Linked DNA regions of Homo sapiens: all the other regions are linked to region 1. Evidence: fine-mapped expression QTL. A gene starts in region 1. Each other region holds a variant in brackets. All regions are shown on one strand. Distances are from middle to middle.

What was found. PIP is the estimated chance that this variant, and not a neighbour inherited with it, causes the effect.
Region 2: its variant is fine-mapped to the expression of MLC1 in unexposed skin (GTEx, PIP above 0.99). The same link has a PIP of 0.9 or more in sun-exposed skin.
Region 3: its variant is fine-mapped to the expression of MLC1 in whole blood (TOPMed, PIP above 0.99).
Region 4: its variant is fine-mapped to the expression of MLC1 in whole blood (TOPMed, PIP above 0.99).
Region 5: its variant is fine-mapped to the expression of MLC1 in whole blood (INTERVAL, PIP above 0.99).
Region 6: its variant is fine-mapped to the expression of MLC1 in whole blood (TOPMed, PIP above 0.99).

Annotation. Positions count from the first base shown.
Region 1 is chr22:50,083,625-50,088,867 of GRCh38, reverse strand. It overlaps MLC1 (modulator of VRAC current 1), which reads left to right and starts at 3,442. Exons shown (of 12, transcript NM_015166.4): 1 at 3,442-3,513; 2 at 3,907-4,142. The coding sequence starts at 3,966. RefSeq lists an enhancer at 3,170-3,794.
Region 2 is chr22:50,167,707-50,172,949 of GRCh38, reverse strand. It overlaps PANX2 (pannexin 2), which reads right to left and starts at 2,219. Exons shown (of 3, transcript NM_052839.4): 1 at 1,994-2,219. The coding sequence starts at 2,219. RefSeq lists an enhancer at 694-1,386 and a silencer at 2,986-3,045. The variant C/G (reference allele first, on the strand shown) is at 2,840.
Region 3 is chr22:50,116,016-50,121,258 of GRCh38, reverse strand. MOV10L1 (Mov10 like RNA helicase 1) reads right to left here. Exons shown (of 27, transcript NM_018995.3): 9 at 3,908-4,102; 10 at 643-757. Among named protein-coding and RNA genes, the nearest start is that of MOV10L1, 29 kb to the right of the region's middle. The variant GT/T (reference allele first, on the strand shown) is at 2,096.
Region 4 is chr22:50,105,430-50,110,672 of GRCh38, reverse strand. It overlaps MOV10L1 (Mov10 like RNA helicase 1), which reads right to left. Exons shown (of 27, transcript NM_018995.3): 4 at 2,425-2,537; 5 at 1,829-2,016. Among named protein-coding and RNA genes, the nearest start is that of MOV10L1, 18 kb to the right of the region's middle. RefSeq lists an enhancer at 4,741-4,850. The variant C/G (reference allele first, on the strand shown) is at 2,314.
Region 5 is chr22:50,132,554-50,137,796 of GRCh38, reverse strand. It overlaps MOV10L1 (Mov10 like RNA helicase 1), which reads right to left. Exons shown (of 27, transcript NM_018995.3): 14 at 3,732-3,790; 15 at 3,167-3,267. Among named protein-coding and RNA genes, the nearest start is that of PANX2, 36 kb to the left of the region's middle. The variant A/C (reference allele first, on the strand shown) is at 2,614.
Region 6 is chr22:50,060,019-50,065,261 of GRCh38, reverse strand. It overlaps MLC1 (modulator of VRAC current 1), which reads left to right. Exons shown (of 12, transcript NM_015166.4): 11 at 1,064-1,228; 12 at 3,605-5,243. The coding sequence ends at 3,679. Among named protein-coding and RNA genes, the nearest start is that of TTLL8, 4.3 kb to the right of the region's middle. The variant T/C (reference allele first, on the strand shown) is at 2,554.

The DNA of each region.
Region 1 (5,243 bases):
GTCTCTACAAAAAAATACAAAAAAAATTAGCCAGGCATGGTGGCGCATGCCTGTAATCCCAACTACTTGGGAGGCTGAAGCAGAAGAATCACTTGAACCCAGGAGGTGGAGGTTGCAGTGAGCTGAGATCACACCACTACACTCCAGCCTGGGAGACAGAGCAAGACTCTGCCTCAAAACAAAAACAAAAACAAAATACGTATATATATCTTTACTATTCCAGTGGTTTCTGTTTTTTATTATTTCTTTTTTTTTTTTTTTGAGATGGAGTCCTGCTCCGTCGCCCAGGCTGGAATGCAGTGGCATGATCTTAGCTCACTGTAGCCTCCACCTCCCGGGTTCAAGTGATTCTCCTGCCTCAGCCTCCAGAGCAGCTGGGATTACAGGCGTGCGCCACCACGCTGGCTTTTTTTTTTTTTTTTTTTTTTTTTTTTTTTTGTATTTTTAGTAGCGACAAGGTTTTACCATGTTGGTCAGGCTGGTCTCGAACTTCTGACCCGCAGGTGATCCACCCGCCTTGGCCTCCCGAGTGCTGGGATTACAGGTGTGAGCCACTGCGCCCAGCCCCGACTTATTTTTGATTGACATAGCTTTATTTTCCTAGGTCAGATCTGTCAGTCTGATGACAGCCTGGACCTTGCCTGTCCATGGATGCAGAGTGTACTGATAGTTCTTGCTGTGGGAAGGGAGAGAGTGGCGCACTCCCTAGCATTTCAAATCCCCGCTAAGCCTGTGTCTTGGGCTGGGTGCTGGAACACATACAGGAGCCAGCAGGGTCCCAGGGACCTACTGGTTGGTGGGAGATTAGCTTGGAAACAAGAGCGAGCTGCATGAGGGCTGGTGGCTCATGGGCTCCCTGCCAGGGCAGCTCGCAGCGGGTGCTGTGCCTGCAGGGCTGCCCCTCAGCTCCCCAGCTCGGGCCACTCCCTGGGATTCTGGACTCAGTAGACCCGGCAGATGCCCACAGACATCTCGGCCTCATCATGTCCAGAATGGAACTCCAGATCCTCGCTCCACACCTGCTCCACCCTGGTCTTCTCATCTCTGTCCTCACTGCTCAGACAGAACTCAGCAACGTCGCCCTGACAGCAGATTGCGTCCGCTCTTCAAACCCTGTTCAGAGCCCAGTCCCTCCTCACCACTTGCCCACTGCCACCTCAATGCCAGGCAGCACCTGCTCCTCCCACCCCCCAGCCTGCTCTCCACCCAGTGAGTGACCGGATGCTGCTCTGCCCAGACCCCTCCAGCAGGTCTGTCTCAGAGTTGAAGCAGAGTCGTCTCCATACCCACAGGTGCTGGCACCTGGCTGTCCTACCTGTATCCCCCTTGCATGGTCCTCGCCTGCCTTCCCCAACCTGTGGCCTTTGCTTCAACTCTGCCAGCCTCCCCTCCCTGCCTCCTTCTCACTGAGGCCTGCCCTGGCCCCTGCAAACAGCAGCCCCTCATTTCTCTCCCCTGACTTCTTTTCCCTCATAGAGGAAATCATGTGTGTCACTGGATGCATTAGTCTGTTCTCACGCTGCTATAAGGACATACCCAAGACTGGGTAATTTTAGAGTCAAGTCCTTATAAAGGAAAGAGCTTTAATTGACTCACAGTTCCACAGGGCTGAGGAGGCCTCAGGAAACTTACAATCATGGTGGAAGGGGAAGCAAACATGTCCTTCTTCACAAGGTGGCAGGAAGGAGAAGTCTTGAGCAAAAGCGGGGAAAGCCCCTTATAAAAGACCATCAGATCTCATAAGACCTCACTCATTGTCAGGAGAACAGCAGCATGGGGGTAACCACCCCCATGATTCAATTACCTCCCACCGGGCCCCTTCCACGACATGTAGGAATTATGGGAATTACAATTCAAGATGAGATTTGAGTGGGGACACAGCCAAACCATATCACTGTATAACACACTAATTTGTTTATCCTGTGCACTCCTGTGCCCCCAATGAATGTAAACAGCCTATAGGAAGGACGTCACTTCTTTGTCCACCCCATAAATGTTTGTTGAATGTTGAATGATGATGGGACATCAGCAGGCAGAGGGATGAAGGGCATTTTAGGAGCAAGAATTTGTTGGAAGATTGTATGAAAGAACAGGGCCTGTTCTAGAAACTAGTGTTGCCAACAGAAACTTGGGAGCATTTCTCAAGTGATGACTTATGATCTGGGAAGCTGAGGGATTTGCTCTGCAACCTCTGGTTCAGGGCAGCTTGTTTGTATTTCTAAGTGGAGAGCAACTTTTGAAAGAAAAAAATGTTGAAATCCGATTAACATTTTTTTCCAAACAAAAAGAAACACAGGAGGATTCGATCCAGTTGGACCCACTCCCACTAATCCCGTTTATCGCTTTAAAAGATAGTGAAGTTTGGGAGGTTTCTCAATCCATTAAAATGAGTTCTTGACTTCACAGATTATAGTTTTTGAAAATTATTTCTCATCCTTGCTTGATTGAAATGAAGACAACAGAACATTGGCTGTGGTGGCTGGCACAAAATTAACTAACCCTAAAATACTAGTATAGCTTAAACTTTCGTTTATTGCTAAAAATTTATCACTGCTGTTTCCTGTGGGGGTGAGGTTGAGCAAAGTGTTTTGAGCTGCATTTATGCGTACTTGACACTTACGCATTTTGATCGAGGTGATTTAGTGGGCATTTTCACTGGGACAGGGATGCTTGTATGTGTAATCTTACTAAAAGCTAATAAAAACTTACTAAAAGCTAATAAAAGCTTACTAAAAGCTTCTTGCTTGATTGAAACGAAGACAACAGAACATCCCATGGTCTGGAACCTGATGACTTTGCTCAAGTTTTAATGTGGGTTCATGGTTTAAGGAGCTGGTTTTTCAGAAACTTTAGTTTGAGCCTTTTTACAATGTGCACAAAGAACCCGTTGCTGTAGTTGTCAGGGTGCCAGTGTCTCTGGGCGACACACATTACTGTGGTTTTTCTCTGCTTGGTGAGCAGAGATAAAGGGGGCAGCAGGACCGGGCCCACCAGCCATCCGGGCTGCCCACGCAAACCACAGGGCCGAATCCGGAGCCGCCCAAGGCCACACAGCTAAGCCGAGTGCGTGAATGCTTATGTGACCGTGTGAAGGAGGTTCCCACCGTGTGGCTGTGGGGGATGGAAAAAGGCTACTTGGAAAGATGTAGAAGACCTTCGAGTAAACAGTTACGTTTCAGAAACAGAGCCTGCTCAGAATGTGTACTTGGTGGGATTCTATTCTTAGGGACGCTTCTTTCTTCTGAGAGACCCGAGCTCTGTGGCGAGTGGCACAGGCAGGGCCCCTTCCTTTCCTAGTTGGGTTCTGACAGCTCCGAGGCAGTGGTTTACACAACCAACACGAAACATTTCTACGATCCACCCGATTCCTCCCCTCATTGATATTCAGGAAGCAGCTCTCCTTCCCCTGCCTTCAGCTCAAGTTTGCTGAGCTTTTGTTTCATTTGTGAATACTTCTTGCTGGAAGTCCCTCACCCAGAGACCAGTGCTCCCAACGGCAGAGCAGCGGGGGAGGTAAGTGCTCAGACATTAAGCCGTTGAGTAGAGGCATGTTTTGCAATCTCTCGTTTAGCTACCAATTGGAGCAGTTTAACGTGCTTGAGTCCCCGGCGTGATGTGTTCATGGACGAAGTTGCCGATGGATGTTGTCAGGTGTTGCACCTGGAGGGCCCAGATGGATCAATGAGGCATTTAAAGTGTAGAATCTCACCCTGAACCCAGACTATTCAGGTCCGTTTTTCTAGGAAAGTTATTTCTTTTTCACTTTTAGATTCAAGTGCTCATTTTCTTCTTCAAATTTAGAGCACTTCAGTATGAACAATATTTCTTTTGTTAAAAAATATTTCTTGGAAACAACTTATTGAAGTTTCCTCAGAGTGGCCAAAGCCGATGATAATTTTATTCCAGATAAAGAACTGGTGACACGTGGCTGTACATTCAGCACAGCTGTGGTGTCCCCAAGTGCCATGACCCAGGAGCCATTCAGAGAGGAGCTGGCCTATGACCGGATGCCCACGCTGGAGCGGGGCCGGCAAGACCCCGCCAGCTATGCCCCAGACGCGAAGCCGAGCGACCTGCAGCTGTCGAAGAGACTGCCCCCCTGCTTCAGCCACAAGACGTGGGTCTTCTCTGTGCTGATGGGGGTGAGTAGCTCCACACTAAGCCCTTGGAGGGCCACGAGCATCTGGTCCCTCTGGTGACGGACTGCAGCGCCCTGGAGCCCCAGGTGGGACAGAGAGAGCAACTCTCAGACTAACCCTGCTGCTGCAGAACTCTTGGATGCCGACGAGCTTGTTTTGCTTGTGTTTTCACAATTATTTTTATTAATTTATGGGTGTCTGTTGTGCCAGCCTTGAGCTGCTCCAGGTTGTGGCTTAGTCCCACCAGGGTAGGGACAGTCCCAGGGCCATGAATGGGCCCCAGGAGTCTCCATGACCCTCGGCTCTGGGGGCCCAGGGTCCTCTGAGGGGTCACCTGCAAAGGTGGGAGGAGGCGTCTCAGGCCTTCAGGTCGGCCCTCACAGAGAGAACCTCAGGGACCTCCTCCTCCTAGGGAGGGCCTCAGGGGCCGGCTGGGAGGGAGCTGGGGAACAAAGGAACAGGTCTGGGGTGGACGGGCAGCGCCAGATGTCCGAGGGATTTCCCTGGGGTCCTGGCCATTCCCTGCACAGTCGTGGGCACAGAGATGATTGGAGGAGCCACTTGGGCCTGAGTGTGTGCAGCTGCTCAGAGCCATGCTGCAGGACAGGCCTCTATGCAGGGACCCCCGGTTCCGTGTAGCTTGGGCTGAGAATGAGATCCAGGCTGTGATTTCTCCCCTCCCTGTGCCCTGGCCTCCGCCGGCAGCCCCTGCAGCACCCACAGTGGTCCTGCCCACCTCCCGTGGCCTGAGCATGCCCCACCAAGACAGGCGTCTGCCTCGGAGCTGGGGACAGAGGCGGCTCCCGGGTGGTGGTGGCCATCTCCGGGCTCTGCCCTCCTCCACCTGGTGCCCTGGACTTGGTCGCAGCCCCTCCCCCGCCCAGGCCAGATCCCCTCTGCCCCAGACCTCGCTTCCTCTGCCAGGACCCTGGGTCCCAGTGACCTTTGATACTGACTCCCCTCAGACTCACCCCGGGGGTGCTGTGCGTGAGAGAGAGCCCCCTCCCCACCGCACCCCTGCAGTGCTGTGCGTGAGAGAGAGCACCCTCCCTGCCTCCTGCTAGGGTCTTCCCTGCTCAGGAGCCCCTGGGCCTGGAGCCCCTG
Region 2 (5,243 bases), 84 kb before region 1:
ACTCCAGCCTGGGTGACAGAGCGAGACTCTGTCTCAAAAAAAAAAAAAAAAAAATGAGCCAGGCGTGGTGGCGGGTGCCTGTAGTCCCAGCTACTTGGGAAGCTGAAGCAGGAGAATCGCTTGAACCCGGGAGGCAAAGGTCGCAGTGAGCCGACATCGCACCACTGCACTCCAGCCTGGGTGACAGAGCGAGACTTTGTCTCAAAAAATAAAAATAAAAAAAGCGGGGGGGTGGTGAAGAAGAGAAAAGGGCACAGTGGCTCACGCCTGTAGTCCCAGCACTTTGGGAAGCTGAGATGGGAGGATCACTTGAGCCCAGGAGTTTGAGACCAGCCTGGGGAACATGGCACAAAAATTAGCTGGGTGTGGTGTGGGATGCCTGTGGTCCCTGCTACTGGGGGCTCGGGGCTGAGGCAGGAAGAACACCTGAGCCCGAGAGGTGGAGGTTGCAGATCGCACCACCGCACTCCAGCCTGGGCGACATACCAAGACTCTGTCTCAAAAAAAAAGGAAATTTGGACACAGACAGGGAGGGAAGAAGCCCATGAGAAGACAGAGGCAGAGACTGGTGGCACGGCCACGAGCCAAGGCGCCCAAGGATTGCCGGCAGCACCAGAGGCTGAAGAGGCTGGAATGTCCCTTTCCTAGAGCTGTGGGAGGGAGCAGGGCCCTGCCGACACCTCGATTTTGGACTTTTGGCCTCCGGAACCATGAGAGATAAATGTCTGCTGTTTGAAACTGCCTAGTTTGCGGTACTTGGTTGCTACAAACACAGAGAACACACGTGGTGTCTGGACATGCTGGGCCTGCCCCAAGGCCCCACCGCACGCCTGGGCTCCCTGCTCTGCAGAGTGTGCTGTGTGCCCACCCCAGGGGTCCTCTAATCCCCGGGGTCTGGCCTCCAGTGTCGAAGAGGAGACCAGCAGAGGCCTCCTCCACCCCTGGGTGGGATCAGACAGCCTGGCCAATGTCCACCCTCAGGCCTGGTGTCTCCAGGCCACGGGGACTCCTTAAGGCAAGGCATCTGGGAGATTTGGGAAGCGCCAGTGCTGAGGCAGGGTCTGCTGAGGTTTGGAGGCTGCAGAAGAGAGGGCCCCAGGGTCCCAACACCCCTCCCCGCTGCAGACTAGTACCTCTGGGCCACACAGGCCAGGAGACCCTGATCCCCCTTGCCTTGGCCCAGACCCCAGGGGAGGAAGTTCTCGGCTCCACCTGTCTCGCCCCACTCCTTGGGGAGGGCAGAGGCACCAGGACCCCACCCCGCAGAGGCTCACAGGCAGGCTGGCTGCTCTGTCCATCTTCCTGCCTCGCCTGGGTGGCTTCAAGTGCCCCCACAGGTCCTGATCTAACCAGCGCGGGTCCCTGCCCTGGTCCAGCCCCCATCTCCCTGCAGGAGCTCCAGGCTCCCTGCTCTGACACGTGGCCCTGCCCCATGCTAGCCCCCCTGCTTCAAACCTTCGGAGGCCCCCAGTGCACCCGGAGAGGCCTCGCCCTGCCTGAGGGGTGGAGGGCCTGGGCCTCTCAGAGACTCTCTCTGCCCTCCTTCCACCCAAGTCCAGCCTGGGAACCCTGCCCGGCAGCTCCACCAGCCCCTGTAATCAGCTCTCTGCTGTCAACACCCATCCCGGCCTTTCCTGGTCCCCACCTGGCCACCCTGCATCCCCTCAGGCGCTGCTTGTGACATTCTCCAAACCAGACCCCGTGTCTCATGACATTTGGGACCCCTGGGTCCAGACAGGCCTAGTCCCACCCGCGGCCATGGGCGGACGAATGGAAGGAAGAACAACAATAAAATAGAGACGAGGGGTCTGTGCGACCAGCGACACCTGCTAGGATGGGGGCGGCTGTGGAAGGTGCCTGGGACGCCGCGGACGCAGCCAGGCCACGGTGGGCGCGGCTGGACGGAGCCGCCGGGGACGCGGGAAGCGCCAGCTCCCGGACACCTGCGGACGCCCCCTCTGCCCGCGCCCCGCGCCCCGGCCGCCGGCCTCACCTGCGAAGTTCTTGGTGAAGACCAGGGTGACCAGCAGGATGGGCACCAGCACGGTGCCGATGGTGACCACCCGGTCGAACGGCAGCTCCAGCTTCAGCTGCAGAAGCAGCGCGGCCAGCGCGCCCGCCTTGTCGTCCTGCGCGCCCGGCAGGATCAGCTCCCGCAGCTTCTCTCCCGCCAGCAGCGCGGTCGCCATGTCCGCCGACTGCTCCAGGAGGTGGTGCATGGGGGGCGGGGGGCGCGGCCCGGCGGGGGGCGCGGGCGGGGCGGGGGGCGCGGGGCGGGGCCCGGCGAGGGGGGCGCGGGCGGGAGGGGACGCGCGGCGCGGGGGCGGGGATCGGGGAGCGTGGGGGCGCGGGACGGGGACGGGGCCGCGGGCCGCGGGAGAGGGTGGCAGGGGACGCCGGGACCGAGCGGGGGGCTCCGGGGGATGGGAGTAGCCGGAGGCGCGCGGCGGGTGCGGGGCTGGCCGGGCGCGGAGCCCGCAGCGGGGTTTGGGGGGCGCTCCGCCGCCGCCCCCGGGGTCAGGGGGCGGGCGGGCCGGGCCGGGGCGGCGGCGGGGGGCACCGGAGCCGCCCGCCTCCGCCGCAGCCCGGCCCCCGCCCTGGCGCGTGCCTCCGGCGGGGGCGGCGGCGGGATCCCGGCCCGGAGCGCGGGCGGCGGCTGCTGTCCCTGCCTGGGGCCGGCGGCCCCGCTCCCGCCGCGGGGAGGGGGCTGTTTACCTGCGGCGACTCCGCGGCGTGGCTCCGCCCCACCCCGCCCCCCGCCACGCAGATGCGGCGCGGGCGATGACTTTGCAGAAAATATTGAAATGAAATGAAAGGACATGAATGAGTAATGACCGGT[C/G]CCTCTTCCTGGGAACGCGGGGTGGCTGGCGGGGGGCTGCCCCGGCCCGCGGGAGGGTGGGCAGGGGTGGGGGCGGCCCTGCGGGGCTCCGGGCTGGGGCGGGGGCGCCGCTCGGTGGCGACGTGAGGACTGGGCGCGCGCTGGGGCTGCCCCCGTCGCATCGCAGGGCCCTTCGCCCAGCCCAGGGCGCAGAGGGGGCTTCCTCGCCTGGGCCCCCCACCTGCCCCGGCCGCGCCCCGCTGTGGGTCCGGAGGTTCCCGCGCTCCTGGGGTGCTGCGGCCACTGGCGGGGAAGCCGGCGCTCTCTTCTCTGGGCTCGGGCGCCAGTGCGCGGGCAATGAGGGCATCTCCCCGCCCCACACCCTCCACTGCAGCCCCGGCCCCACCCGACCCCCCCACCCAGTACCCCCAGTCCCGCCGCCGTGAGTGACCCCATCACCCCCGCTCCTGCAGCCCGCACCTCCTTCCCCCACGCCCCATCCCGTCCCCTGTTCCACAGACGTTCCCGGGGCCTGTGCCAGCTCAGGGGGTCCCCGCCGCCTCCCTGACCTTCATTCCCTCCGCTCCCCACAGCCCCGCCCTCCGTCCTGTTCTCCCTCGGGGAGCCGGGGGTCTGGCTTCAGACGCGGGCGCATCCCGCGTGGTCCCTGCCTCTTCGAGGCAGCCGTTTTCCCTCGTGCAGGTCCCCTTCCCACTATACCAGGACGAACGTGCACGATCTTTCATATAAAAGATTTAGTGTGATTGGAGTTTTAAGTTCATTCAATAATTCATTCCAAAAATGTATTTTGAGCCCGTGTTCACAGGCCCGGCCACTGCTGTGAGCAAACCAGGAGGTCCCCCTGCCTCCCTGGGCTGCGTAGGGGATGTGTCTGCTTTGAGCTTTCACGCCGTCTGCGTTTTTAAAGATCCTTGCATGTTTTCTGAGGGATGCCAGCCCCTGACTTCCAGCAAACTTCATCCTGAGGCAGGCAGTTCAGCTACATCCAATCCCAGCACCCAACCACCCAGTCACCCCAGATAAACCCAGTCACCCCAAATAACCCAGGCACCTCCAGATAAATCAGCCCTGGCAGATAACCCAGTCACCCTGACAACCCAGGCACCCCAGATAAACCAACTCACCCCCCGATAACAGTCACCCCTACCAGATAACCCAGTCACTGCCAGATAAACCAGTCACCTCCCAAATAACCCAGTCACCTCTCACATAACCTATTCACCCCAGATAACCCAGTCACTGCCAGATAAACCAATCACCCCAAATAACCCAGGCACCCCTCACATAATCTATTCACCCCAGATAACCCAGTCACTGCCAGATAAACCAGTCACCTCCCAAATAACCCGGGCACCCCTCACATAACCTATTCACCCCAGATAACCCAGTCACTGCCAGATAAACCAATCACCCCAAATAACCCGGGCACCCCTCACATAATCTATTCACCCCAGATAACCCAGTCACTGCCAGATAAACCAGTCACCTCCCAAATAACCCGGTCACCTCTCACATAACCTATTCACCCGATAACTCAGTCACTGCCAGATAAACCAGTCACCTCCCAAATAACCCAGTCACCTCTCACATAACCTATTCACCCCAGATAACCCAGTCACTGCCAGATAAACCAGTCACCTCCCAAATAACCCAGTCACCTCTCACATAACCTATTCAACCCAGATAACCCAGTCACTGCCAGATAAACCAGTCACCTCCCAAATAACCCAGTCACCTCTCACATAACCTTTCACCCCAGATAACCCAGTCACTGCCAGATAAACAATCACCCCAAATAACCCGGGCACCCCTCACATAACCTATTCACCCCAGATAACCCAGTCACTGCCAGATAAACCAATCACCCCAAATAACCCGGGCACCCCTCACATAACCTATTCACCCCAGATAACCCAGTCACTGCCAGATAAACCAGTCACCCCAAATAACCCAGTCACCTCTCACATAACCTATTCACCCGATAACTCAGTCACCCCCAGATAACTCAGTCATCCCAGATAAAATCATCATCCCCAAATAACCAAGTCACCCTTCAGGTAACCAGATAAACCAGTCATCTCCTAGATAACCGAGGCACCCCTCAGATAACCCATCCCGTATAACCCAGTCACCCCCAGATAACCATCACCCCAGAGAACCCAGCCACCCCTCACATAACCAAGTCACCCCCCCTCCCCGACAACTCAGTCACTCCCAGATAACCCAGTGCAGTGAGTTCCAGCCCCTCCGAGCGACCCGAGTGTGGCTGCTGGGTGGCTGCCTTTGTTTTCCAGATGCACTTTCTGCTTTCGCATGGGTGCCTCTCCATGCTTTCCAGAAGTGCTCGGCCAGTCCATGCTCTCACCATCCCTGTCTTCTTTCCAGCTCTCAGCCCTATCCACCT
Region 3 (5,243 bases), 32 kb before region 1:
GGTCCCATTCCCTTCATTCTCCTTAGGACAGGGCTGCCAGCTGCTCTGGCACTGGAACTCCAGTTTAGCTGGGGACTCTCAGAACACCTCAAACCCCTACAGAAAAAAACCCTCCTGGACAAAGGGCAATGTTCTCCCCTCAAACTGCCAAATTTATAGACTTTTCTTCCTTCTTGAACTTTTCTTCTCCACCTACCCCACTCAGAACGTGCTCCTCTGTCTCCCATGTGGGTGGGGACCTGGGCTCTCCTCCCCTGGACCCTTGCCCTGCTGGCTCTGTCAGGATGATGGTAAAAGGCTAGAACACTTCTTGCTCATAACAAAGGCCTCCTAGTCTAGCGAGAGAGGCCAGGCTGATGGCAGAGGTATCCCTCAGTTCTTCTGCTCCAGACCCCAAAGGCCCTGTGCGTGACCCCCAGTGAGGCTGTGGGATGCCAGCCCCTGGTGTACAGCAGGTCTGGCAGCGTGAGTGCTATGGTGCCTCATCCCTCACGGCCAGGCAGTGACCCTCGTTATCCCAGCTACCTGTGAAGAAAACAAGCCAGATGAAGGTCTGAACCTGAGAAGGAACCTCCTGGCTTTGTCAGAAAACAAGAGCATTAGAAGATGCCAACACCCCACAGGCCATGAGACACTTCCTACCTCTGCAAGTAATGGCTGGAAAGTCAGGATGTCAATTTTTTGTTCCACACATTTTCTAAGTCTATCTGGGATTGGATATTGGGGAAGAAAACTTGGAAGTTGTCGTCTTGAGTTCCTTAAAAAATTAAGTTCACAAGTTAAAAATAAGTCTTTATCACCAGGTATCACTAGACATTCTTACCTAAACATCCTTTCCTATTTTAGGAAGACCAAAGTCCATCCATTTCCTGAGAAGAACTGATATATGAATAGCTGGTCTAAGGCAGTGGTTTGAAGCTTTCGTTTTAGCTCTGGGATCCTTTCCTCAAACAGTTCCCACAAGTGCTCTACTATTTGTAAACAGGTAAGTGTAGCTGCACAGGCTGTGGGAAAACAGGGCTGGAACCCCCAGAATCTCCTGGAACCAGGAGTTTGGAAACAGCTGTTTTTAACATTCTATGAGCTAAGCTCTTCCTACTATATTTGACATCAGGACTCCACCTGGGCCTATCCCTGCAAAGCACACATTAGGAAAAGGCTGCTCTGTCTGGGTCCTGCCTTCGATTTGTTTTTGTTTTGTTTCCCAGCCTGTGGTTTCTCTGGGGAAATTCAGTTTGTTCAGGATGAAGAACATCGCTGCTCTGGAGCCAAGCCCAATGCGGCAACAGAAACAATGGGAAAGGGACAGACAGGAGAGGAGAAGCCAGGAGAGAACAGGGAAACGAAAAGTCAGAGTGAGGTCGATAAAACTCAACTCAGCAAATAAGGATGTTGGTTGGACCTTTATCCCTCATTCCCTCCCAGCTCTCCATTTCAGTGCAGTCTCACCCAAGAGAGAAGCCCACATTGCTCTCCGTATTCCATTCACTGTCATCTCAATTTGGGTTCCACTGGCTCAGCCCTCAACAGGAGAAACGGGGTGAAGACATTCCCCATGGTTTGTGCTGAGGGTTATGTCAGCGCTCACATGCGAGGTGTATTTGGAAAGCATTGATTACTAACACGAACAAGGTAAAGGGAAACCAGGATGATCACTACAGGCTTAGGTCAACAGCCTGAACAGCTAACAGAACCATGTGGCCTCAACAGACACGCTGGATTAACAAAATGTGGTTCCTACCATGATGGGTGGCTAGAAACTTGGCTGGGAGTGTGCTGGCCTACAAAGCCCCCCAGAACAGATCTGCTAAGTGAACACTCTGCTCTAGCTAAGAGCCAAAGTTGCCTGGCACTGGGGGTCCTAGCAGGAAGTGCAGGACCTGTGACAGGCGGCCACGGATGGACAGCTCTGGAAGCAGGCACCCGCCAATGCCCGCGTGGGCAGGTCCAGACACCTGGTGCTCCAGGTGTGCTCGAGCCAACCCGGGTCAGGCACTCTGGGTCACTAACCTGAGTGGCAGGAAACTGATGTCCTTGTTTTAGATACGCTCCCACACAATATGTTAATATTCACGGGGAAGTAACTGACCAGGGG[GT/T]TAAAATCCTTGTGGCTGTTGCTCTGTGTATTTCACTCTTTCTGTTAAGCCAAATGATAACTAGAAAGCTGCTTGGTGTGTCACTAGATGAGAACCAGGGATCCTCCAAGGCTCCTGTCATTAAAACTCGATCCTCGGGGACTCTGCTCTGCCTGGCAGCCGAGGGACTTTCCTGCTCCTTTTCTGGGTTACATCCCTACAGCCCCTTGATGTTGAAACTGTGCCCCAAAGAGTTAAAGAAACCGATGACTAACAGAAATTCTTGAGCCTGCAGGATGGGTGATAAGAAACAACTCCAGCGCTGAGTCTCCCCCTGCTTATGACATCAAAGGACTGGCTGAGATCAGCTGGAACCAAGATGGACAACTGGAGTTTGTGCAGAGCTTACTGACGTCACAGCCTGGATTCCCACCGTGTTTCATGCGAACTCCCTCCGAACTGGCACATGTGACCCATGAGGTAGCATGAAGGGGTAACTATGCACACCCAAGGCCTTTCCAGACCTCCCTTTTCCTTCCACCAACCACCTATTAATCCCAGATTCTACCCACTAAACGTTTTCTGACAAAATTACTGCCTTAAAGCCAGCACAGAGAGACACATTTGAGCTTGACTCCTGTCTCCTTGGGGGTTGGTTTTCAATACAAAGCTTTTCTTTTCTCAGAAACCCACTGTCGTAGCAATGGCCCCTAGTGCATCAGGCAGTGAGCCCCTTTTTCTCAATAATAATATGCCCAGGGATCATGACTGCTTATTCGCTTACTGAGTGATTGCTTTGTGCCAGAAAACTGCACATTTTACATGTCTGACCTCATTCAATCTTCAAACCACACGAGGCAGGGACTATCATTTTACCAATGAGAACAAGGCTCAGAGTGGTTAAGAAACTTGCCCAAGGTCACACAGCTTCTTGGTGGTGGTGCTGTGATTCAAACAATGGTCTAACCTTAAAAGGTAAACAACCACATGATATTCTTCCCTGGTAACAGGTTTTCCCTTTAGTCTGCAACTAAGTAGAAGTCCATAATCCCTCATCTTGAACTGTAACTGGGGCAACACGTGATTTGAAATTCAGAATCTTTCAGTATTAGAAAAGTGACCCACCTCACCCTCAGGGAGGTCTGGGGTAGTAGCAGAGCTCAAACCCATCAGTTATTATAGCCGATGGAGGAAAAGTCACATCACACGGGACTAAGTCATTACACTTTAAAAAGCCTGCTATTCAGGGCTTTTTCGTTTTATAACTACAGAAGAGAACACGTGGATGTGAAGTGCTTTCCTGAGACTACCCTCCAGTTAAAATCTGGGTGGTCCCTATGTTCCCCAGCCACAAGTCCCAGATCACACACTGCTTCTCCTAACTCCATTCTTAAGTGGTACCACATCTTCAAACAGGCTTCAGGTGACCCCACAATCCTGTTGCCCCCAGTGCGAATGACACGGGGATGCCGTGCACTACACACCATGGCCTCGTCAGGACGGGAGAGGTGGCAGGAGCTGGGTGAGGCCAGCCTGCTCTGAGAGCCACCTTGGAACTGCCAGAGCAGAGTGGGGCTTGGGGGAGTGAAGGCCGTCTTCCTTGGGCTTCACGCTGCTGCTGGGCAGCTGCAGAGACAGAACTTGACCTTCAGAGCTCCGTGGAAATGCACTCCATCCCCCAAATACAATCATGGAAAGAGGCTTGAACCCCAGCTTCATCCCCTTTATACCTCCCCAGCCAGGTGGTAGCCACCGCTTGCCAGTGCACGTCCGCTTTTCCTTCACAGATAAAACTGCCAGACCAAGAGCCACACTCATTTCAGTTATGGTACCTTTTCTGTGCGGTCACAACAACTGTAGTTTTTGCGGATGTTAACGCTTGTGAACTTTTAAGCTTTTTCCAAGAAAATGGTTCGCGCGCAGCAATTAGTGACTCCTCCCCACTGATAACATTTACTTCAAGGTATCGCCCAATTAGGAAATCGGAAAAACAGAGCAAAAGGAGCTCCTTGCAGCGGCCAGGATTTCTTGAAAAAAACAAAATGAAATTTAGTTTTAGTCATAAATAAGATAGGCAGTCAACACAATTTTCCTTTGTACATACAAGAAAAGTGACAGAGTTAAGACTCATCTTTAGTCTTCAATAATTCTTTTTACAGAGAAAAAAGAGATCTTCTAAAATAAGCTATGTAATTAATATTTTCTCAAGATAAAATTAAGCACCTACAGGCCCGGTGCGGTGGCTCAGGCCTGTAATCCCAGCACTTTGGAAGACTGAGGCGGGCAGATCGCTTGAGCCCAGGAGTTTGAGACCAGCCTGGGCAATATAGGATGAACCTGTCTCTGCAAAAAATACACAAATTAGCCGGACATGGAGGCGTGTGCCTGTGGTTCCAGCTACTCGGGAGGCTGAGGTGGGAGCCTAGGGAGGTGGAGGCTGCAGTGAGCTGTGATCATGCCTCTGCACTCCAGCCTGGGCAACAGAGTGAGACCCTGTCTCAAAAAAAAAAAAAAAAAAAAAAAGTAAGCATCTACAATAGTCTTTTTTGTAATCCTAACACATATAAGAGTAGGAAAAAATTTTGATATTCCCAATTTTAAGTCAGAATTTTATGACATGACCAAAAATAGGTACTATATCTAATGTGCTTTCTGCCCAGTCCTCGCTGTGGCTCTAACTGGGGCTACATCATCCACACTACACTTTGTGCCCCCCTATGGCTTTTTTTTTTTTTTTGAGACGGAGTCTCGCTCTGTCACCCAGCCTGGAGTGCGGTGGCGTGATCTCGGCTCACTGCAAGCTCCGCCTCCCAGGTTCACGCCATTCTCCTGCCTCAGCCTCCTGAGTAGCTGGGACTACAGGTGCCCGCCACCACGCCCAGCTAATTTTTTTTATTTTTAGTAGAGACAGGGTTTCACTGTGTTAGCACCTATGGCTTTTTTGAAAAAACCTGTTTCTATGTTGTCATAATGTCAAAAAAAAAAAAAAAGCATTGAAGCTGGCTGCACCTCACACAGCTGACTGTGCACTTGCCACCCACAGCTTGATGTTGATGAGCTGTGATTTAATCAGATTTAAGTTTTTCAAAAAATTTAGAATTAGACACCCAGCTGGAAGGCTATCACGCACTGTCGGGCAGCTTAGGCAGGGATGCAGGGACACAGGGA
Region 4 (5,243 bases), 22 kb before region 1:
AGGCGTGAGCCACTGTGGCCAGCCAGAAATCCAATAATTTTAAGAACCAACTACATCCAATGCATTTTTTAAATGCCAAAATGTGAAACAACAAAACAGAAAAATCCACCCAAAACAGCAATCACCAATGTAAGATGAAGGATGAAGAGCGACCCCTAACTCCACCTTCAGTCAACCATAGAGATGGCTGAAAGCTTCCAAAAGACAGTCTTTTTTTTTTTTTTGAGATGGAGTGTCACTCTGTTGTGCAGGCTGGAGTGCAGTGGCGCGATCTCGGCTCACTGCAAGCTCCGCTTCCTGGGTTCACGCCATTCTCCTGCCTCAGCCTCCCGAGTAGCTGGGACTACAGGCGCCGGCCACCACGCCTGGCTAATTTTTTGTGTTTTTAGTAGAGATGGGGTTTCACCATGTTAGCCAGGATGGTTTCAATCTCCCGACCTTGTGATCCACCCACCTCGGCCTCCCAAAGTGCTGGTATTACGGGCGTGAGCCACCGCGCCCGGCAAGACAGTCTTCTTTTTTTTGAGACAGAGTCTTCCTCTGTCACCCAGGCTGGAGTGCAGTGGTGCAATCTCGCCTCACTGCAACCTCTGCCTCTTGGGTTCAAGTGATTCTCTTGCCTCAGCCTCCCAAGTAGCTGGGATTACAGGTGCCTGCCACCACAACCGGGTAATTTTTGTATTTTTAGTAGAGACAGGGTTTCTTCATATTGGCCAGGCTGGTCTCGAACTCCTGACCTCATGATCTACCCGCCTCAGCATCCCAAAGCGTTGGGATTACAGGCGTGAGCCACCATGACCAGCCTCCTTTTCCTTTCTCTTTTTATTTTTTAAGACAGAGCCTTGCTGTGTTGCCCAGGCTAGAGTGCGGTAGCACGATCACAGCTCGCTGCAGCCTCAAGCTCCTAGGCTCAAGCAATCTTCCTGCTTCAACCTCGTGTGTAGCTGGGACCGGAGGTGCACACCACCATGCTCGGCTAATTTTTTTTTTTTTTTTTTTTTTGAGAAGGAGTCTCGCTCTGTCGCCCAGGCTGGAGTGCAGTGGCGCGATCTCGGCTCACTGCAAGCTCCACCTCCCGGGTTCACGCCATTCTCTTGCCTCAGCCTCCCAAGCAGCCGGGACTACAGGTGCCCGTCACCACGCCCGGCTAATTTTTTGTATTTTTTTAGTAGACACGGGGTTTCACCGTGTTAGCCAGGATGGTCTCGATCCCCTGACCTCATGATTCACCCGCCTCGGCCTCCCAGAGTGCTGAGATTACAGGCGTGAGCCACCGTGCCCGGCCTCGCTTGGCTAATTTTTTAATGTTTTGTAGAGATGGGGTCTCACTATGTTGCCCAGGCTGGTCTCAAATTCCTGGGCTCAGGCAATTCTCCTGCCACGGCCTCCTGAAGTGCTAGGGATGCTCTCCTCTTACCCCAACAACTCAGGGCTTGAAATGTCTACTATTTGGCTTATTAAAGTAACTCTTCAAAATATACTTATATGGGGCCTTTCACATCCCAAAGAAGAAAAGCGTTTTCTTTTTTTGAGACGGAGTTTTACTTGTCGCCCAGGCCTGAGTGCAGTGGCGCAATCTCAGCTCACTGCAACCTCTGCCTCTCAGGTTCAAGCAATTTTCCTGCCTCAGCCTCCCGAGTAGCTGGGATTACAGGCGAGCACCACCACGCCCAGCTAATTTTGTACTTTTAGTAGAGACAGAGTTTCACCACGTTGGTCAGGCTGGTCTTGAACTCCCAACCTCAGGTGATCCGTCTGCCTCAGCCTCCCAAAGTGCTAGGATTACAGGCGTTAGCCACCGCACCTGGCCAGAAAAGCATTTTCTTACCGCCTCTTCACTAGGGTCATACAAAGTGCCCTCCAGACATAGCATGACTGGCTGCTCTCCACCACCACTGCATTGACCACGTCACCTCTCCGGGGTGTGTACCCATCTGGCAGTTTCAAGGAGTCCAAGGTAAAGAAGATGCTTTCCTCTAACACCCCGTTCCTTCCACAGAGGCTAGAGATGCAGACCTGGGAGCAGAGAGCTGAGCGTCACAGGAAGCAGATGCTGCATGACGACAGGGCGCAGCTCTAACACACGCCCAAGTCAGCCCAAAGCACACAAGCTGCACCAGGAAGCTCAAGTCCGCCATCCCGTAGCACTGGTCCAGTGATTCTCCAACACACCTTTCTCCTTAGAACATTTTAGCACTGTTGCATAAGCTACAGACCTTAGAATTCAGGTATGCAAGCACTAGGAGTTATTGTTTCCAAACGAAACACAGCATTGTCAATAGGAAAACACACTCCTCTTTGGCCATGACAAAG[C/G]TTTATTTTTCCAGGCTTCCAACACATGCAGGAGAAGCCTGGGCCGTGCAAGTTACCCCTGATGGCAGGTCTGCCAGAAGCACAGAGAGGAGCCACTAGTCGGCACGCTACCTTGTCCACGCGCTTGTATCTCAGTGGCTTCACTGAGGTGGCTTCGCTGCTCCACGTGCCAGGCCGGATCCGGTACTCAGCCTCCACCCAGTCTCCCTTGCAGGGCTCGAAGCCTAAAACCGCCAGGAAAAAAGCCATGGTAGTGTTAAAGTGCACAAGTTATTCTGAGGTCATGGTGCACTGAAATCATTTCTATCATACCTGAGGATACATTTGAACATTTAAAAGGCACTTTCTACTACTGTGAGAAACATATTTTCGAATAAAAAACCCTGAAGTATTATTATTAACCACTGCAATAAAATGAGCTGAGCTGGAGCCTCTCACTCACACCTCCAGGCTCTAGAAGGTGCAGTGTGCATGCTCGTGGCAGTCCCTCCTCGTGTGGCACATCTGAGGGCAGGTGGCATCCCCCTTCCCCCGTCCTGCAGTGTTTGTGGCACCTCCCTGTCAGGGACACACACACGGTGTTCGGGAACAGAGAGACACCTGAACTCAGGTGTGAGGGAAGCACTCAGTGGTCCAGCCAGCCCCTCAGTGTGCCAGAGAGCTGTGCTGTGGTCCAAGCCATGGCCTGCCGGACGCAAGACACCGCTGGGCCTCCCGCAGCTGGTGGAAAACTGCAGGTTCAGTGACATGAAGTGGCTGAGTGGTGCTGACAGAACAGAGAGATGGTCTGCACAGGTCTGCCATGGTACAGGTAGTTAAAATCTTTTTGTTATTTTGCAATAAGCACTCTGGAAGCTCAAAAAAAAAAAAGTGTATAATTGAATACTGAGTTTGTGTCTCCAGAAAGCTGGTGATGAACACGTAACAGCACAAATAGCAGCTGACACCTACATTCGACATGTGAGCCATGGTGAAATCACTGTCTATGTGAAAACAGAGGCCAAGCGCGGTGGCTCACGCCTGTAATCCCAGCACTTTGGGAGGCCGAGGCGGGTGGATCACGAGGTCAGGAGATCGAGACCACGGTGAAACCCCGTCTCTACTAAAAATACAAAAAATTAGCTGGGAGCGGTGGTAGGCGCCTGTAGTCCCAGCTACTCGGGAGGCTGAGGCAGGAGAATGGCGTGAACCCGGGAGGTGGAGTTTGCAGTGAGCTGAGATCACGCCACTGCACTCCAGCCTGGGTGACACAGCGAGACACCGTCTCAAAAAAAAAGAAAAGAAAGAAAACAGAAGACACTAAAATATGCTAGGGCACTGACTTCAAGGTCAGGGAGTATTTTAAGAAGACCATGTCCTGGCCGGGCATGGTGGCTCACGCCTGTAATCCCAGCACTTTGGGAGGCCGAGGCGGGTGGATCATGAGGTCAGGAGATTGAGACCATCCTGGTTAACACAGTGAAACCCCGTCTCTACTAAAAATACAAAAAATTAGCCAGGCGTGGTGGCAGGCGCCTGTGGTCCCAGCTACTCGGGAGGCTGAGGCAGGAGAATGGCATGAACCCGGGAGGCAGAGCTTACAGTGAGCCGAGATTGAGCCACTGCACTCCAGCCTAGGCAACAGAGCGAGATTCCGTCTCAAAAAAAAAAAAAAAAAAAAGACCATGTCCTAAAACCACAATTTAATACGTGCAACTCTGGAGACACATTTATACAGCGTTTTGTAAACCATGCCTTCATTTATTCCACAATTAACAGAATTTTGCCAATTTTTATTCTCAATTTCCCTGGACATAAATGAAAAGTGAAGCAATAGCTATTAATGTACTAGTTCTATACGTTGTACAGTTACTTTAAAGAAAAAAAAAGTTAAATTCAATTAATTTTTTTTTCCAGCAGAATCATGGAATCATAGTAAAGATTTCTAGCACTTTGTGAGGCTGAGGTGGGAAGATCACTTGAGCCCAGGAGTTTGAGACCAGCCTGGGCAACACAGTAAGATCCCATCTCTAAAAAAAAAAAAAAAAAAAAAAAGAATTAGTTGGGGTGTGGTGGCATGAGCCTGAAGTCCCAGCTACTCACGAGGCTAAGGTGGGATGACTTAAGCCCAGGAATTCCAGGCTGCAGTGAGCTACAATTGTGCCACTGCACTCCAGCCTGGGTGACAGAGCAAGACCCCGTCTCTAAAAAACAAAAACAAGCAAACAAAAGTAAAGATTTCAGAAGACCTTTCTATTGAAGGAGAAATATTTGACATTATGGTGAATGCCATTGTAAATTAAGTTTAGAAATTCAACACTGGAGATAAAAATATATGTTTCTACAGTGATAACAGGATGTTAACGGAGTAAAGCACCACAGTACAAATCAGACCCTGCAGGTCAGGAAGCTGAGACAGCAGAAATGCACTCAGATGGCTATAGCGCACACGTGATCCTCCAGACATGCAGCCAGCTGGAAGACAAGCACGTACAAGTTCCTGAACTTCTATGACATACATACATGCACAACTCCTGTGACAAAGCTCATGACAACGAAACACACACACGGACACTGGGGGCTGGCAGCCCTCATTTTCTCTTTGCTGCTCCCCCAACCTGGATTTTACAAATGCTGGAACCTGAGGAACCGTTCTGTAAATCAACCAAAAGGTCCTGTGATGATGCTCCTTTTACTTTCTTTTTAAGTGAGATCTCTAAATTTTGGTTTTACTTTTTTCAAGTCAGCAGAAAATCTTTATTTAATACATGTAGAACCCCAAATCTTCAGCTTTTGATAACTTTTGCAAATTGTAGTTATTGAAAATAAAGCTGATGAGCAGGAACATGGAAAAACAATGGAGGAAATAATGAGGCCTCAGGAGCCCAAATGGAGTCCACAGATGAATGCTCAAATTCTAAGACTGGACTTGAGAATATGCCAAACTTTCA
Region 5 (5,243 bases), 49 kb before region 1:
TGTATATTTATATATGTATATATATAAAATATGTATATTTATATATGTATATATATAAAATATATATATGTGTATATACATATGTATTTTTTGAGACAGAGTCTTGCTCTGTCGCCCAGGCTGGAGCGCAGTGGCATGATCTTGGCTCACTGCAATCTCCACCTCCTGGTTTCAAGCGATTCTCCTGCCTCAGCCTCCTGAGTAGCTAGGTCTACAGGCACATGCCACCACACCCAGCTAATTTTTTTTCTGGGATGGAGTCTTGCTGTATTCTATTGCCCACGCTGGAGTGCAGTGGCGCGATCTCGGCTCACTGCAGCCTCCGCCTCTGTTCCATGTTAGATAGTTTCTATTGCTCCGTCTTCAAGTTCACTAATTTTTCCTTCTGCATTGTCTAGTCTGCTGATAATTCTGTCCAATATATTTTTCATTCTAGGCATTGAATTTTTCATTCCTAGAAGATAAAATTGTCTTTTATATATCTTTCGTGTCTCCACTTAACCTGCTCATGTCTTCTACTTTCTTGAACACATGGAACATATTTATAACTGTTTTAATGTCCTTGTCTGCTAATTCCACCATGTTATTTCGGGGGGGTTGGTTCCAATTGACTAAATTTTCTCCTTTTGGGTTACGTTTTTCACTTTTTCATTTTGTAACCAGATGTCAGTGTCCATTTTATACCTTGCTGGGTGCTGGATAATTTTATATTCCTATAAATATTCTTAAACTTTGTTCTGGGATGTAATCCAATTATTTGGGAACAGCTTGCTTCTTTTGAGGCTATCATACTTTGTCAGTCTGGGCCGGAGCAGCCTTCAGTCAAAGGCTGGACTTTCTACGCTCCTGAGACAACACCCTCCCATGGATTCTACATGTGAATTACGAGGTTTTTCTTCTCTGGCTGTGGGCACAGCTATTTCTGGCACTGTGTCAACTTTTAAGGATTGTTCTTGCTCCTCCTTCCAGCTGGTTCTTTTCCAGGCCTGGGTATTTTACTCACATCATGCACTGATCAATGCTCAGCTGAAAACTCAAGAAGGAATCTCTGTAGGTGCCCAGCTGCTCTCTGTCCCCTGCCCTCTCCCCAGCACTCTACTCTGTCAGCTTTATCCCCCTTGTCCTCCCCACCCTTCCAAATGCTGTCTCTGTACTCAGGTCACTGCACTCCGCCTGGGCTCCCTCTTGGTGCTCTCTGGCCTAGACACTCTCGGAAGGCTGTGAGTTGGGAAAACCATGAGGTCACCTCATTTGTTTCCTCTCTCAGGAATCCCTGTCCTATGATAGCTGATGTTAATGTCTGAAATTGTTGTTCCATATAGTTTGTCTGATTTTTTATTGTTTCAGGAAGGAAGATAAATCTGGTCCCTGAAATTCTATCTTGGTTGACATATGAAATATTCTTGAGTTTATTTTCAATCTAGTTAATCCATAAGAAGATAAAGTTTCAGGTTTTAAAACCTACAGTCAATTAGGAATGTGCCCACCTAAATAGTAACACCTCCCTGATCTCACATGCCATCTGCACCACAGACTCTCCCCGAGAATCAGGCAGTAGAATGAACCAGTAATGAGGTGATGACGGAGAAGAAAAGCACTGTCCAAGGAAGACTCTTTTCTATTTGCAGAACAAAAAAGAGATCAACTATGAAATATGCCACAGATGACTTTCAAGGATAACCTCTTGCTGCTTCATTTGTCGTATTTTCCATGATTGTATAGGCATTCTAAACCTATCATTTTTGCATTTTGGGGGAGGAACTATAAAATGGTGAGCATTTTTGAGTATTAGATATAATTTAAAAATTCATGTTATACATTGAAAACATGCTCATAAAACCAAATTTGAATAGCACAAAATAAGTTGTAAGCTCCACCATGACACAGATGATTTTCTTGTTACTAGAAACATGAAGATAAATAAAACCACTTCTATTGTATTCACAAAAATATACTGAGAGCCCAGGACAATACCTGGCATGTAATAGGCACTATATTACTATTTATGGAGTGACTGGATTATAGAAGCTTTTTTTTTTTTTTTTTGAGATGGAGTCTCGCTCTATTGCCCAGGCTGGAGTGCAGTGGCGTGATCTCGGCTCACTGCAACCTCTGCCTCCTGGGTTCAAGTGATTCTCCTGCCTCAGCCTCCTGAGTAGCTGGGATTACAGGTGTACACCATCATGCCCGGCTAATTTTTGGATTTTTAGTAGAGATGGGGTTTCACCATCTTGGCCAGGCTGGTCTTGAACTCCTGATCTCATGATCTGCCCGCCTCGGCCTCCCAAAGTGCTGGGATTACAGGCGTGAGCCACTGCGACCGGCCTAGAAGTTTTTATAAAATATCTTTGCAACATTCACAAAGTTTGCAAATGTTAACAATTTGCGGGGTGTGTATCCTTCCAGACATTTTCCATGCATACACAATCACATAAATGTACCTAAGTGTACACATAAACCATATAATTTAAAAATAAAACTCTAAGGCCGGGTGTGGTGGCTCACGCCTGTAATTCCAGCACTTTGGGAGGCCGAGGAGGGTGGATCACAAGATCAGGAGATCGAGACCAGCCTGACCAATATGGTGAAACCCTGTTTCTACTAAAAATACAA[A/C]AATTAGCTGGGTGTGATGGCACATGCCTGTAGTCCTAGCTACTCTGGAGACTGAGACAGGAGAATCACTTGAATCTGGGAGGCAGAGGTTGCAGTGAGCCAAGATTGCACCACTGCACTCCAGCCTGGGTGACAGAGCGAGACTCTGTCTCAAAAAAAAAAGAAAGAAAAGAAAAAAGAAAAAGAAAAAACCCAACTCTAAGGTCATATAAACATCTGTACTTTGCTTCCCCTATTTAATATATTGTAGCCATCTTAGCCCTGCATCTTAGCCCTTGCATATAAACTTTACACTAAATCTATTTTTGAATATTTTAGTTCACTTTATTTTAACTGCAATTTTGAGTTATTTGTGAACCACACTGCTCTAATACTCCAGTCAACTAAGCGCTAATACTCCGAGAAGGAAACGCCCACCCCCTGTGTAGACAGTTACATCGCTGAGCCATCCCCTGTGTAGAGACAGTCACGCCGCTGAGCCACCCCCTATGTAAAGACAGCCACGTCGCTGAGCCATCCCCTGTGTAGAGAAAGCCACATTGCTGAGCACTACCTTTTTGCTGGTGGACTGTCCACTGCTTTTGGTGTCTTGTGCATGGTTCCAATTTCCCGTCACTTGTGGAGACTGTAAAATAATTTCTTCTGGAAACAACACTTTTAAAACAAAAAATGGTAAGAGCACGGGTATAACTAAAAAGCTAAAAAAATATTAATAGAGGTTGTTTATGGCTGACCCTAAAGCAATTAATATTCTATTCCCTTCCTTTCTTAACCTGCCTGTTATACTGTTTCTAAATTATAGCATTATTAGTACTGCATATTCTTCACAACAAAGCCCTTTATTTGCCCATCTGTAAAAATTCATAAATTACATTTATGAAGGGAAAAGCGAGCAAGATAAATTTATTTTCGGTTATTTAAGCATGCTATTATTAGTTATTCACTAAGTTGAAATAGTAAGAAAACACTAAAACTTGATAGAAAATTAAAAACATGAATATAACAAAAGTTTTACTTCTAATATTATGACTGAAGAGACTATTTTACACAAAATTTTACATGAAGCCTATAAAAATACTCTGTGAAGATGTAACACTATCATTCTATAAAAGTAATACCTTTTACACCTAAGTGGATGACGTGTTCAAGTGCAAAGTGACACCGTCTGCTTGTGGTCCTGCAGGAAAGAAAACCACATAAAATAACTAACCTTACATTCAGAAATATTAAGGCTGGCATAAGGTAATGAAAATTTTATGATACAATCTTTAAGTCAATATAAAAAAATCACAGCAACAATCCAACAATCAATGAAATAGAGAACAGAAAAACACTAGAGAGGACGGGCGCGGTGGCTCACGTGTGTAATCCCAGCACTTTGGGAGGCCGAGGTGGGTGGATCACCTGAGGTCAGGAGTTCGAGACCAGCCTGGCCAACATGATGAAACCCTGCCTCTACTAAAAATACAAAAATTAGCCAGGCATAGTGGTGGTGCACGCCTGTAATCCCAGCTACTCAGGAGGCTGAGGCATGAGAATCACTTGAACCTGGGAGGCAGAGGTTGCAGTAAGCTGAGATGGCACCACTGCACTCCAGCCTGGGTGACAGAGTGAGACTCTGTCTAAAAAAATTTTTGTAAAAACCACTAGAGAATACCAAAGAAGCCAAAAAAAAAAGCATGGGACAAAATCCCACACCCATTCTTTCTTTCTTTTTTTTTTTTTTTTTAGAGACTCTGCTCTGTTGCCTAGGCTGGAGTGCAGTGGCACAGTCAGAGCTCACTGAAGCCTCAAATTCCTGGGCCCATGTGATCCTCCCACCTCAGCCTCTCAAAGTGCTGGGATTACAGGTGTAAGCCACCACACTTGGCCCCATATCCATTCTTGATTAAAAACTCACTAAAATAAGAATCTATCTCCTCAACCTGATAGAGGGCCACTACGGAACCTACCACCCACGCTGTACTAACTCGCTCAGGACTGACAGCCCTGCCCCTAAGACCAGGGACAAAGCCAGTGCAGCACTTGCCACCACTTCTATTCCACACTGGCACACAAGTTCCAACCAGCGCAGGAAGGCAAGGAAAACAAATACACAGCATCCAAATAAGAGAAGAAGAAGTAAAACTGTCTTTGGTTTTTTTTTTTTCAGACGGAGGCTTGCTCTGTCGCCCAGGCTGGAATGAGTAGCGTGATCTCGGCTCACTGCAACCTCCGCCTCCTGGGTTCAAGCAATTCTCCTGCCTCAGCCTCCCAAGTAGCTGGGATTACAGGTGACCACTACCACGCCCGGCTGATTATTTGTATTTTTAGTAGAGATGGGGTTTCCCCATGTGGGCTAGACTGGTCTCAAACTCCTGACCTCAGGTGATCCGCCTGCCTTGGCCTCCCACAGTGCTGGGATTACAGGTGTGAACCACCACACCCAACCTAAAACTGTCATTCTTTGAATCAATGATTATATATGTAGAAAATTCTACAGACTCTAGGAGAAGCTACTGGAGCTATTCAGTTTAGGAGACTTGCAGGATACAAGGTAAACATACAAAAATCAATTGCTTTTTATAAATACTAGAAACAAGCAATTAGAAATTTAAGTTAAATTTACTGTTTATAACAGCCATTTAAAA
Region 6 (5,243 bases), 24 kb after region 1:
GGGAACACAAGTACCAGACTTTCTAATAATTACTTAAAATCCAGGCCGGGCGTAGTGGCACATGCCTGTAATCCCAGCAGTTTGGGAGGCCGAAGCAGGCAGATCACCTGAGGTTAGGAGACCAGCCTGGCTAACATGGTGAAACCCCGTCTCTACTAAAACTACGAAAATTAGCTGGGCGTGGTGGCGGGTACCTGTAATCCCAGCTACTGGCGAGGTTGAGGCAGGAGAATCGCTTGAACCTGGGATGTAGAGGTTGCAGCGAGCCGAGATCGCGCCACTGCACGCCAGCCTGGGTGACAGAGGGAGACTGTCGCAAAAAAAAGTTTTATGTTAACTTGAGAAGAGCTGTTCGTTCTGTTTCTTCTCTTACTTTTTGTAGCAGTGACATTGGATAGATGTTTGGCTCTTTTGTGTGTTAACATTTAGTTGCTTTGTTTTTCTTGAGCCAACACGGGAAAGCTATCCATGGGCACAGAGGGTTTTGGGTGCTCCGTGGTCACTCTCTGGCCCCCTGCATCCTCGGCCGCTCCCTCCATCCTCTTCCCTGCCGAGCTCACCGCGCTGCCTCCTGCCCCTTCCTTCCTAGCAGCTGGTGCTCAGGGGTGAAGCTGTTGGGGGTCTGTGCACCCCATCCCCCCAGGACGGCTGCCCCCTGTCTCCTCCGCTCAGGATCCTGCTGACACGGAACGGTCAGCGCTTCTGCCTCCCGCGGACATTCTCTCTGGCTCTGGGACTGAGCCTTGCGCGTGTTGGAGCAGGAGGGGTGGAGCGACTTGACCACTAGCAGCCAGCACTGTCCACGGGGCCTGGCAGTGGCTCGGTCACTTTTATTCCTGTATGTTGAACACAAGCTGATGGAATTTAAAGCAGAATTGACCTCATTAATTGAGCTAGAATGATTATCATCAGGTTGTTGAAATAGCAATGCGTTTGGGTTACTGGGGCTCCGACTCGAGCCCTGGCACCTGCTCTTTGTGAAGGCCGTGGGCACGAGGGAGCTTTGGTCTCCTGGGCTGGAGGGCGGCTGGGCCACTCTGCTCACACCTCCTTCCGCCTGCAGCCATCCTACGATGTGCTGCTGCTGCTGCTGCTGCTAGTGCTCCTGCTGCAGGCCGGCCTCAACACGGGCACCGCCATCCAGTGCGTGCGCTTCAAGGTCAGTGCAAGGCTGCAGGGTGCATCCTGGGACACCCAGAACGGCCCGCAGGAGCGCCTGGCTGGGGAGGTGAGTGGCCTGCAGGGGGAGGGGGCACTGGGGAGGTGAGTGGCCCACGGGGGTGCCCAGCCAGGGAGGTGAGAAGCCTGTGGGGTGGGGGGAAGCTGGGGAGGTGAGTGGCCCACAGGGGTGCCCAGCCGGGGAGGTGAGTGGCCTGCAGGGGGAGGGGGTGCTGGGGAGGTGAGTAGCCCACAGGGGTGCCCAGCCGGGGAGGTGAGTGGCCTGCGGTGCAGGTGCTGGGGAGGTGAGTGGCCCATGGGGGGCCCAGCCAGGGAGGTGAGAAGCCTGTGGGGTGGGGGCACTGGGGAGGTGAGTGGCCCACAGGGGTGCTCAGCCAGGGAGGTGAGAGGCCTGTGGGTTTCAGGGGTGCTGGGGAGGTGAGTGGCCCACAGGAGCACCCGCTGGGGAGGTGAGAGGCCTGCGGTGGGGGCTCCTGTCCTGGTGAGGGCCTCCGAGGGCCACACGACGTGGCCCTCGAAGATTCATTGTGCCACTTTGTATTTTTAAAAACACCCCAGAAAAACCCCGAAGAAGTAAAATGTCTTTCTTTTCTTTTTTTTTTTTTTTTTTGAGAAGGAGTCTCAGTCTGTCACCCAGACTGGAGTGCAGTGGCGCGATCACGGCTCACCACAACCTCCGCCTCCTGGGTTCAAGCAATTCTCCTGCCTCAGCCTCCCGAGTAGCTGGGACTACAGGCACCCGCCACCAAGCCCAGCTAATTTTTCTATTTTTAGTAGAGATGGGGTTTCACTATGTTGGTTAGACTGGTCTCGAACTCCTGACCTCATGATCCGCCTGCCTTGGCCTCCCAAAGTGCTGGAATTACAGGCGTGAGCCACCGCGCCCAGCCGTAAAATGTCTTTTAAAAATACAAACACAAAGCCTGGGTAAACCCAGACCCATCCCTGGGAAATATTCTGGACTTAATGCTTTCAGATTTGCTCTTAGAGACACAGAAGAGGGCTTTGTGAGGACTCCCACAGGTCCTGAAGTTTCCTTCCCTGGTCTCTGGTGGGGACGCGGTTCTGCAGGGAAGGCAATGCCCACCCAGCCTGGCACATGGGGCTCCGTAAAGCTGGGGTGTCAACAACTTCTGGCTGTCACTGCCTGAACAATGTTCCCCCGGGCCCTGCCTACTGTCTTGCTGCCCCCACATCTGAAAGGCAGAGGCTCAGCGTCTTCCCCCCACCGAGCTACGGGTCCTGGTGGTGCTCCCCTGGGCAAACCTGCCCGCTGACCCTCAGGTGCAGTGACCACTAGGACTGTCACCTTGATGCCCAAACACCTGGGCAGCCACTCAGCGGGGCTCTGAGTCCTGCCCCACCTCTAGGCCA[T/C]CCTGGGCGGACCGGCCGCTGCTCTTGCCCTGCACACCCTGCCCTCCTGTGTTCAGCACACCACCGGCCTCAGAACCTTGGTGCAGAGCCTCCAGTGCCCGCTAAGTCCCGGAGGACGCTCTCTTGCCCTTGGCTCGTTTCTCAGCTGACCCCGTCGCCCCCACCCTCCACCCTCCCTACTGCTGTTCCCTTAACCTGCCTCCTCAGTTGCTTTGCTGCCATTTTTCCTGGCTGTGGTCAGTCTCCCTGCTAGGACGGCAGTCCCTGGGCCTGAAATGAGACCCGCCTGGGTTTCTGTTGTGACCAGCAAGGCCCAGAGTCAGACGCATGAGGTGTTCTCCCCAGATCCCAGAACTGCTGGTCCCAGGGGCTCAGGGTGGGCGGCTGGGGCTCAGGGTGGGCGGCTGGGGCTCAGGATGGACGGCTGGGGCTCAAGGTGGGTGGCTTGGGCTCAGGGTGGGCGGTTGGGGCTCAGGGTGGGCGGCTGGGGCTCAGGGTGGACGGCTGGGGCTCAGGGTGGATGGCTGGGGCTTAGGGTGGACGGCTGGGGCCCAGGGGCTCAGGGTGGGTGGCTGGGGCTCAGGGTGGACAACTGGGGCTCAGGGTGGACAGCTGGGGCTCAGGGTGGACAACTGGGGCTCAGGGTGGACAGCTGGGGCTGGCGCTGTCCTCCCTTTTGCCTGGAGGCATCTGGTTACCTCTGCCTTAAGTGTTTTCTTCCTCAGCCGTCAGGCACATGCCCAACCTTGGGCGGCCTCCCCCCGCTCCCCGCCCCAGAGCCAGGGCAAGGGGCCGAGTGAAGGGCTGCTCCATCCCAGGCTCGGTAGAAACCGTGTGTGCGGGGGGGGATGCAGGCGTTTCTGGGACACTGAGGAAGTGAAGGCTTTTATCTCTTTCCACAGAGGCCCAGGGGTTAGTTTCCCCACTTCCTTCACATTCGAAGAAAACTTCTGAACGCTGGCTGCTCGCTGCCTGTGGCCGAGTGGCGTGTCCACCTTCCCGCCGCACAGGTGGCCCTGGTGAAGTAACACCTTTCCTGTCTCGGTTGCAGGTGGCCAGGAGCCCCCTGAAGGAGTTCGACAAGGAGAAAGCCTGGAGAGCCGTCGTGGTGCAAATGGCCCAGTGACCCCCAGACGCGGAAACCGGGTGGCAGCGCCCAGCCTGGCCCCAAGCATGGAAACGCACAACCCCTAATCGCCCTGAGCTACTGCTTCTAACACCTCTTTTCCCTTGTGTGAGGGCAAACCAGGCTGCAGGTGGGGTTTTCACTTCCTAGGGTAGTTTAATTTTAAAATAGGCCAATGTTGGCTAGTCTGTGCCTCAGTGAGATCAGTCAGCTCCGAGTGGCTCCCGTGTCGTAACAGCAGGAGCATGGCCGCAACTTCCCAGGCCGAGGAAGGGCCCCCGGCTCGGCCTCTTGAGAGCCCCACCCCTGAACTGGCCCCAGCTCCTCTTCCTGCCTCTCTCATGGCTTGGGCTGGAGTGGGCTCTCTGGACCTGACCAGACTGTGGGTCCCTGCGTCTCCTGCCCACTCTGACCGGGCTTCCTCCCTCCACGCTTAGGGTCTGTCCCGGGTACTCAGTCAGCCCAGTGGGATCTTACCCACTTCCCTGCAAGGTGCACCTGCCCCAGGCTCAGGCTGCCCAGCGGCTCTTCCTGGACAGTGAGAGCAGGGCTGGGCGCCTCTGTCCTGGCCCGGGAGCCGCAGGGGCCCCTCCTCCAGAGCCTGGGCGCAAGCGACACAGGCTGCCGCTGCTCTCCCAGGTGAAATCCACACCAGTCCACGCCGGGTCGCCTGCCCTGTCTCCCTACTTAGACCCAGTCATTCTAGAGGGATCCACCGCCACACTGGCCGGCCCACGTCCTGGGTGCTGTCATGCCCAGCTTGGAGTGCCACGTGGCCGCTGCCCACGTCCCGGGCACTGTCATGCCCAGCTTGGAGTGCCACATGGCCGCTGCCCACGTCCCGGGCACTGTCATGCCCAGCTTGGAGTGCCACGTGGCCGCTGCTGTGACAGGCAGTGTTCTTGGGGGTGGGGCTGCATCCAAGGCTTTGTAAACCGGCTGGACCACGTCTCCCTGGCCCCAGTGACCGGGGGAAGCTGAGCCCCTCCCTCCTGTGTTTGCTCCCATTACTCAAAATGCAGGACAGATCAGGTCAGAGCCCAGGAATTCTCACAGGTTCACCCAGCGCCCTCTACCTCCTAGCAAGTACTTTGTCTTGATCCTCACTGAGAAGGCCCCAGGGCAGCGGTCTTCTCCATCTCCGCTGTTTTGGGGTCTTAGGGTACAGCCCAGGCGGTCACTGCCCACCTGCCAGGCTGCAGGGACAGTTGGGTGTGAGAATAACACTGGCTTTGGGTAGTGCCATGGCCAGGAGTGGGTTTCCCTGCGTCTCCTCGTCCCGAGGGCGCCTGGGTCCTCCCAGCTGACGGCAGTAAATCCACAGTGAGTTGGGGCGACTGTGAAACTGGAATGCTGTTACTTTGATAATTACTTTCCAGCAGGTGTTTTCCTTCACAATGGTTTTGTTTCTTTCCTTCTGATCTGAGAAGACATGAACGTTTTCTCTTCACCGCCGTGGGGTGTATTGACTGGTCCCCCATGGGCTGCTGGAAAGGCCCGGAGATGCATCTGTGGCCTGGGGCCATCAAGATCAAAGAACCAGGAGGCCTGGGAGATGCAGCTG